2 linked regions of the Homo sapiens genome follow. The protein of the gene in region 1 interacts with the protein of each later gene in a pairwise test. Each region holds a gene or a part of one and is shown on either strand. Other genes may lie near its edges.

Evidence for each region. Proteins that work in one complex are often made in the same cells at the same time.
Region 2: the proteins of TMEM108 (region 1) and ARHGEF6 interact in a two-hybrid assay, tested with the Homo sapiens proteins (one large-scale study listed by BioGRID and IntAct).

The regions. Positions count from the first base shown.
Region 1 is NC_000003.12:133,384,241-133,387,895, forward strand, and holds part of TMEM108 (transmembrane protein 108 isoform 1 precursor), read left to right. Parts: intron 1-3,655. UniProt on the Homo sapiens protein: Transmembrane protein required for proper cognitive functions. Involved in the development of dentate gyrus (DG) neuron circuitry, is necessary for AMPA receptors surface expression and proper excitatory postsynaptic currents of DG granule neurons.
Region 2 is NC_000023.11:136,679,815-136,683,469, forward strand, and holds part of ARHGEF6 (rho guanine nucleotide exchange factor 6), read right to left. Parts: intron 3,031-3,655; coding exon 2,944-3,030; intron 2,155-2,943; coding exon 2,076-2,154; intron 1,063-2,075; coding exon 917-1,062; intron 1-916. UniProt on the Homo sapiens protein: Acts as a RAC1 guanine nucleotide exchange factor (GEF).

The DNA of each region.
Region 1 (3,655 bases):
AGGAGTAAAGTGCATGCATCAGTTTCCTCTCATCTGGCATTTCATACCAGCACTGGCCCCTACCTTGCTTCTCTGAAGCCACCAGAGTCAGAATTCAGATGGGCGGGGTGCTGGGCAGCGGTGATCCTCTGCTCCTGGTAGAAGTGGGAGTTGAGTAAGGCAGATCCCAGGCCTGTGCAAGGAGGGAGGGTGTCCGTTCACCTGCCCTCCCAGATTGCAAGCCACAACCAGTGCCTGGAGGCATATATGTGTCCCGGGGCTGAGAAATGCTTTTCTCTCCTGAGCCCTGCCAGACACTCTAAGCCACGCACGTTTTCAGAAGTGCTGAGAACTGAAATTGATTGGATTCAGGCCATAATGGGCTAGGGCAGAGGAGCCAGGTGGCTCCCAAGCTGGTCTCTGCTGCCACCATCAGGACGCACAGAGCCCACCACTCTTGCCAGAAGCCTCCACGCCTGGCGCTGAATTGGTCGGCGCTCACCATTGTCAGCGGTCTGAGTTTTCATGAGCGTGTCAGTTTTGTGGCTCTGTCAGGGTCCTTTGCCTGTTTGTCACATGTGATGTCCATTTTTGAAAATGCCTTCACCCATCCTCCCTGCAAGAAGATGGGGCTGTTTGGAGGGTGAGATTAGAAAAATAGACTAGCTGCAGATGTTTGTCATCACCAACTCAAGTTCACCCTGGCCAAAGTGGAGTAGCCCCTCTCTCTCTGACACTAGACACTTGAGGGCACCCTCTGCACCTGGTCCCCAGAGCAGTCTGGCCTCCTTCTAGACAGTGGAGCATTAGTGCAGCATTCAAAGAGGTCACATACCATTGTGCTGATGGTTGCTCAGTGAATATTAGACCTGAATGTATATGTGTGCCTTTTCACTCACAGGCCCTGAATGAGTTTATAATTATTATATAAGAAAACCCGGGTGAGAATGACTCTTGCCAATGAAAAGAGTAGAAGAGATTGGGATCAGAAGGCATTATGGCTGGGAAACATGTCTCCTTGGAGCTTACGGATCAAACAGGGATGGGAGAGCCTCAAGGCAATGCAGGGATATCCAGGGAATGTCCCCCAGCTGTTCCAGTGTTAGACCCATACCCTGACAGCTCTTCCCTGTGCATCCCAGCCAGCACCTCCAGGCAGCACTCAGTCCTCACTTCATGGCTTCTCCCCAAGAGGGCCGTGGGCTTCTACAGGCACATTCCCGCCTGCCAGGCTGGTGGGTCAGACACTAAGCCCCCCAGCCTGACCTCCCTCCATACCCTGAGGCCTCCCTGTGACCTCCTCCCTCAGCCTCCAAAGGAGGGAAATGGCTGTGCACAGCCCAGGTGCACCCCTCCCACTGGCACCCATGGGCGAATCCTTTCCCTCACTGGTCTCAGGTTTCTCATCGACAAAACAAAGGGGCCAAACTGAAATGTGTCATCACTCCCTGTCCTCACAGTTAAGCCTGCATAGATCATTAGAGAGGAAGCCTAGTATGCTTCTAAGACTTGGCTTGTGGAATCAAACATACCTGCACACAACCCCAGCTCTTAACATTTGTTGGCTGTAGGACTTACACAAGTAACTTCATCATTGATCCAGTGTCTGTCTGCAAAATGGGACTCCTGTCCACTGTGTTAGTTCCTTCGAGATGCAGGCACCAAGATGGGATTAGGCATATAAGAGAATTATTGGGGGAAACACCTGTAAAATGTTCAGGAAGGAACTGAAGTAGGCAGAGGAAGCCCCAGACTGCAGTGCAGGCCTGACCCCCATGAAAGGAGAGGGAGAAGGAAAGAGAATTCAGTAGGAAGAGTCTTAGACTACAGTGTTGTTCTAAGAAAGTTTCTGCCAGCCAGTGGGAGTCCTTAAGCCATTAGAGGGGTTCCATGTCCAGCAGGAACAGGCCTGCACTAGTACCCCTGTCATGGTCAATCATGGCTGACCAGGGCATTTTCATGGCTGCAACCTCGAAGACTTGTAAAATCAGAGATGATGCATGTTAGGTCTTATCTTAGCATCTGCCATGGAGAAGGTACTCAATAAATGGCAGTGATCAAACAGTGATGATTATTCATCTTATTGTTTTTAAGATTTGCAATGCCTGCTCAAACAGGCCCGGGAAAGAGCAATTCAATAGTTGTTTGAAAGGTTGAATCCTCAGGGGACCTGCAGGGTTTCATTTCCATTTCTCATCACACAGCAGATCCTATCACCTGAAAGCATGCCCTTCCACAAATGTGAATACAGTACTCAGGGCTCCATCTGAAAATGGAGTGACCCCTCTTCTTCCTGTCACACATCTGACAAGCCATGGATGACTCCCCAGTGACATTCCTGGGAACCCAAGAGAGCTTAATTCCCAACTCTGTTTTAAAACTCAAGGAAATTGGGACTCCATGACCTCCTCCAGAGTCTTGATGGCTACTGCCTCAGGAGAAACAGAGCAGTTGAAGCTTTTCAACTAAATGGGAAAGGGAACAGTTAACATCTTGTGTTTGCATAGAGCTGCGCAGTTTACAAAACGCTTCTGCATATGTCATCTCTATACCCTCCGGTGTTCAGGACAATACAGGATAGTGGATATCAACTTGAAGATCATCAAGACCTGGACTCAAGTTGCAGTAATTAGTTGGGTGATCAAGATCAATACTATTAGCTTCTATGACCTTCAGTTACCTGTTCTGAAAATGGGAAGAGCAATAGTGCCTTCCTCAGGCAGTTATCATGTGGGCTAAATAAGCTTCAAAGTGCCTGGGTCAGTGCTGGGAATATAGTAGAGACCCTGTAAGTCTGACTTGTACTTTTCTTTCTTGGATGAAAGGTGAGACCACTGAAATAGTGAATGTTCTAACCCCTAGGTGGAGCTTTGTCCTTGAGCCACCCAATAGTCATATAACACAGTTTTTCTTTCTAGATCTCTCTTGTAGAGGATGTTGGGAGAACAAGAAGAGAACTGTCATTAATTAAGCATCCATTGTGTGTCAGGCATTGTGTTTGGCATTTTGCATCCATGATCTCTTTAATTCTCATTACAAGCCTATGAAGTTCATCTTAAGTGACTTTCCAGGTGGAATACATGGCAGAGTCACAATTTGAACCTAGGTCTTTCTGTAGCCAGGCTGGCTTTCAGTAAGTAAATGAAATGGTGTTTGAGAAGCACTGGAAACTCCCTGAGAGAAATATAATCAGGCCAGGAGCATGAACATGTGAGGGGAAGACAGCGTGGAGCAGAACTTTCTGTTCTGACTCCCAGGCCTTCCCGCAGGGCAGGATCTCTGCATCTGGCATTCTAACAACATGGGCTGTTAGAGCACTGGACTCGGGGGCGGAGGACTTGGATTCTGCAACCTCTACCAGCCCAGGTTAGCAGCATGGCCTTGAGCAAGTTCACCTCTCTAGGTTTCCATGCCCCACCTTCTAGAATAAGAATGTAGGCTGGGGGAAGGGGCTGATTTGTTTCAGCACCTACTGTGCACCAGGGACAATTTGAAGTGCTGGCAGATGTATGACTGCATTTAATCTTCCCAAGGAAGCTGACGCTGAGAGAGGTTAAGTAACTTACTCAAGTCATGCAAGTAATAGATTGTCACCTAGATTCTAATTCTAAATTCGATGTCCCTTTTGCCCTATTGACTAGGCCTAAGATGGCATCTGTCACTTTGATTCTGTTTG
Region 2 (3,655 bases), on another chromosome or scaffold:
TCTTTCCAGTCCAGATTATCGGGTCTCTAAGAAACAGCACAAAATTGACTCAACATTCCATGATCCTGTCCTCTCTTTCTCATCTGGAATTTAATTAATTTAATTTTCTTTCCTCTGTAAGGAAGGAAAATGGAGTAGCAGTCAACATTTGAGTTCAGTGATATGTTTGGCACTCTAGTAGGTGCTTAAATAGGTTATTTCATGAGAACAGCCTAAGACATAGACTCAGTCAAGGGAAGCAACTAACTAGTAATTGGCAAAGCCAAGATTTGAACCCAGATCTGAAGCCAAAGTCCATATTCTTCCAACCACAACACACAGTCCTCAAAACTGGAATTTTGGCATCATAGGTTTGTATGTTAACAAACAACACAGCATATCTTCCATCTCACTCAGCAAGTACAGTAAAATCTCATCAATTCAAATTCCAATGTCTAAATTTGTGATAACTCAGAAGGAGATAATGCTAAAAGTTTACCTTTGAAGAAGGTTACTGAGCAAATGTGAGAGCATGAGTGAGATGACATGGAGATGTTTAAGTACTTAGGGAGGTAAACTATTTGTTTCGACTTAGCCCACTGTTAGTAGGAGAATAACCATTGCTCATGGAAATAAGCCTTGCTTATCATTAAAATATTTTAGCAGGACTTCTGGTTAGAAATACTTTGCTAGCAGTTAGTTGGGGTATCTGAATACTGTCAAACAGAACTGCACACTCTAAGTAAACCTTTTCATTAATTTGGATGGGCCTCATAATGAGAAATCAGAATGAGTGAGGTTTAACTGTACTTCAAAATCTACAAATATAGGCTGCCCAAAAGACTAAGGGTGTGCTCGCTGCTTCTTGTAAGTCTCCAGCAGGCAGGAGTTGACGAAAGACTCAATAATCTCTGGACAGAACACATGGACTACTTACAGAATGAGCACTACATGATGACGATGAGGTTTTGGATAATGAACTGCAAGAGGCAGGTCCTCTGATCAGTCTGTTCAGCTGCTCCAACCATTCCTGGAAGTCCTGGTTGTTGTTACAATGGACCACAATTCTCTCCACTGTGTTACCTACATCCCCCAATTATGATCAGTTTGAAAACAAAAGGCAAGGAAAAACTTGAGCTTGTCCCATTCATAAATAGACTTCATACAACTAGGACTTGGGTGTGTATTTTCAGGGGTTTTCATACCTATGGGATAACCCTGCTGAAATTTCTATATCAGAAACAGATAACCTGTGATTACAAAGTAAATAAATATTCATGTCTGATTTAGAAAACTGTCCTTGATTTTTACTGCTTACAGAAGCTTAAAAGTAGTGTAAAACTTCACCATAAACAAACTTGCAATCCAAAAACATAAGCACATAGTCCATCTAGTTAAGTCTAAAGTGGGAATATTGTCCTGGTTCCCCTGGTATCAAAGTTGGAACAAGATCCAACTAAGACTATTTACAACCTTTTGGCAAACACCAAACCTTAAGCTCCTTCTTGGGAAAGAAGAGGGTAAGGCCATGATCCCAGTCTTAGCCACTGTGCCATATCAGCACCAACAGTCAGGCCACTACATATAAATGACACAGACCTGGCAAAAGGGATCATAAGCTAAAATGTCAGGGGGCATTACTGAAGCCTGGCATTATGCTCAATTTGTGAAGAAAATTTGATGGCTTTTCAGAACTTTTTAGAAATACAACCAAATCTTACTAACTCATGGGCTGATGATAAAATTGCTGATAAAAGTCCATATCTTTGGCTCCTCTGCCACCAGGGAACAAATGACAGAGGGGAAGAAAATTGCGTTTACATCAGTCCATTTCGTTATTCCTTAGCTCTCACAAGTAGCTCTCATGCAACAGAAAATTGAAACTAATGGCAAAGCCATGGCTTTTGAATGAGAGGAGACTTCTCTGTGCTATTGCTGTACCCTAATTATCCCAGGAAATGGAATATACTTTGCCATGCCCGCATAAAATTTGCTCGTGGCCTATGTAACAGGAAATAATGGCATTTATTTATTAAATTCCCCTTCATTCCAAAAAGAATTGGAAGTAGTTACATGAAAAAGAGAAAATTACCTACCAGTGATTTCAAATGTGCAGTCATTCCCTTCAATTTCATCTAATCTAGTCACCACCGTTCCTGCTATTGGTATTTTTCCCTATTAGAAAAAGAACATTCTCATTAATTCTGCAGTTATACAGGTCTCTGTTTATTTCACTTAGATTTTCTGACCCTCTCAGCAAGGCAAAACTATGGCTAGACGTATTTCTCCAGTCTGTCAATAGATAATATGTTTCCCTGCTCTAAATTTTAATCAGACTAAGAAAGCAAGGGGAAAATGTGGATTGTGTTTGGCTAACACACCCTAAACTATAAGATCAGGATTTACAAAGCAGTTTACTTTTCTAACACATTTTCATAAGAATCAGTAAAAAAAAGTGAAGGCTCAGATGTTATGAAAATTATTAATTGCCAGGCCAAGATGGAACAGGCAATAGTAACTTATAATACTCTATATGTTGGGAGCTGACTGAGGGACATTTAATTTCCTAAGGAGTTTAATAACATGCTTCTTAGAAGCCTGAATCATGTGCTGTGACTATAATAAGACAAACATAGGAGCAGGTCCCAGCTTTATGTTTTCTCAGCAATAATGACATGGGCCTGTACAATACTGCTGCTAATTTATCTAGTTTCCATTTATGCATGCAAAACCTAGTGCATAACTAAAGCGGTGGATATATTCAAGATAAACTCATTATACTAATACAAAGGTCTTTGATCTAAGGAACATCTGCTCTTACAAGCTCTTTAATTACAATGAAGGGTCAGAACATTCTGGTTCTCCTGGCTTGAGCTTTTAATGCCATAGTGGAGATATTGCATCTGGATGGAAACCTGTTTTCGTTAGGGGGTCTGCTATGTGTTTTATATGAAATTTACTAACCTGATAGATAAAGCCACTCATCCGAGGACTTGCAGATAACATTATCAGGACATTTGAAAATAACATAAGGTACCGCTCCTCTTTTTCCTGAGAGGGAATGAAAATAATACATGAAGAACAGAATTGGACACTTTATCTGTTGAGAATTTCTGGAATCACTGCCTTATAACATAGACCTTATATAAACAACTGAAACATTAACGGTAATTTTTTTTTTAAAAAAGATACCCAACTTGAAAACACAAAACTAGTTGAATTTTACTTTGACATGGACATAAACCCACAGTTTATCTCTCTTCTTCTTATACATAACAATTAAATACAAATAACCATGCTTGCTTTCCATGTATGAAAGCCTGAGAAGTCACCACAGTTTATGCAGCCAGTGAGATGTGCTAGACCTGGGCACAAAATAAGTCTCCAGGTTCACAAAATGAAAATATATTTTACTTTGAAAAAATGGCAAGATGAAGGGGTTTTCAGGTGATAAGAGATTTAGTATGCTCTAACATGTTTGTTAAAGTCGTATTCATAAAATTAGCTTTGGTCATTAAGAACAAGATAATTATTGGATTTATGTAAAACATAAAAGTAGATACACTTTCTTTTTTTTTTCTTGAGACGGAGTTTCGCTCTTTTTGCCCAGGTTGGAGTGCAATGGCACGATCTCGGCTCACCACAACCTCCACCTCCCGGGTTCAAGCGATTCTCC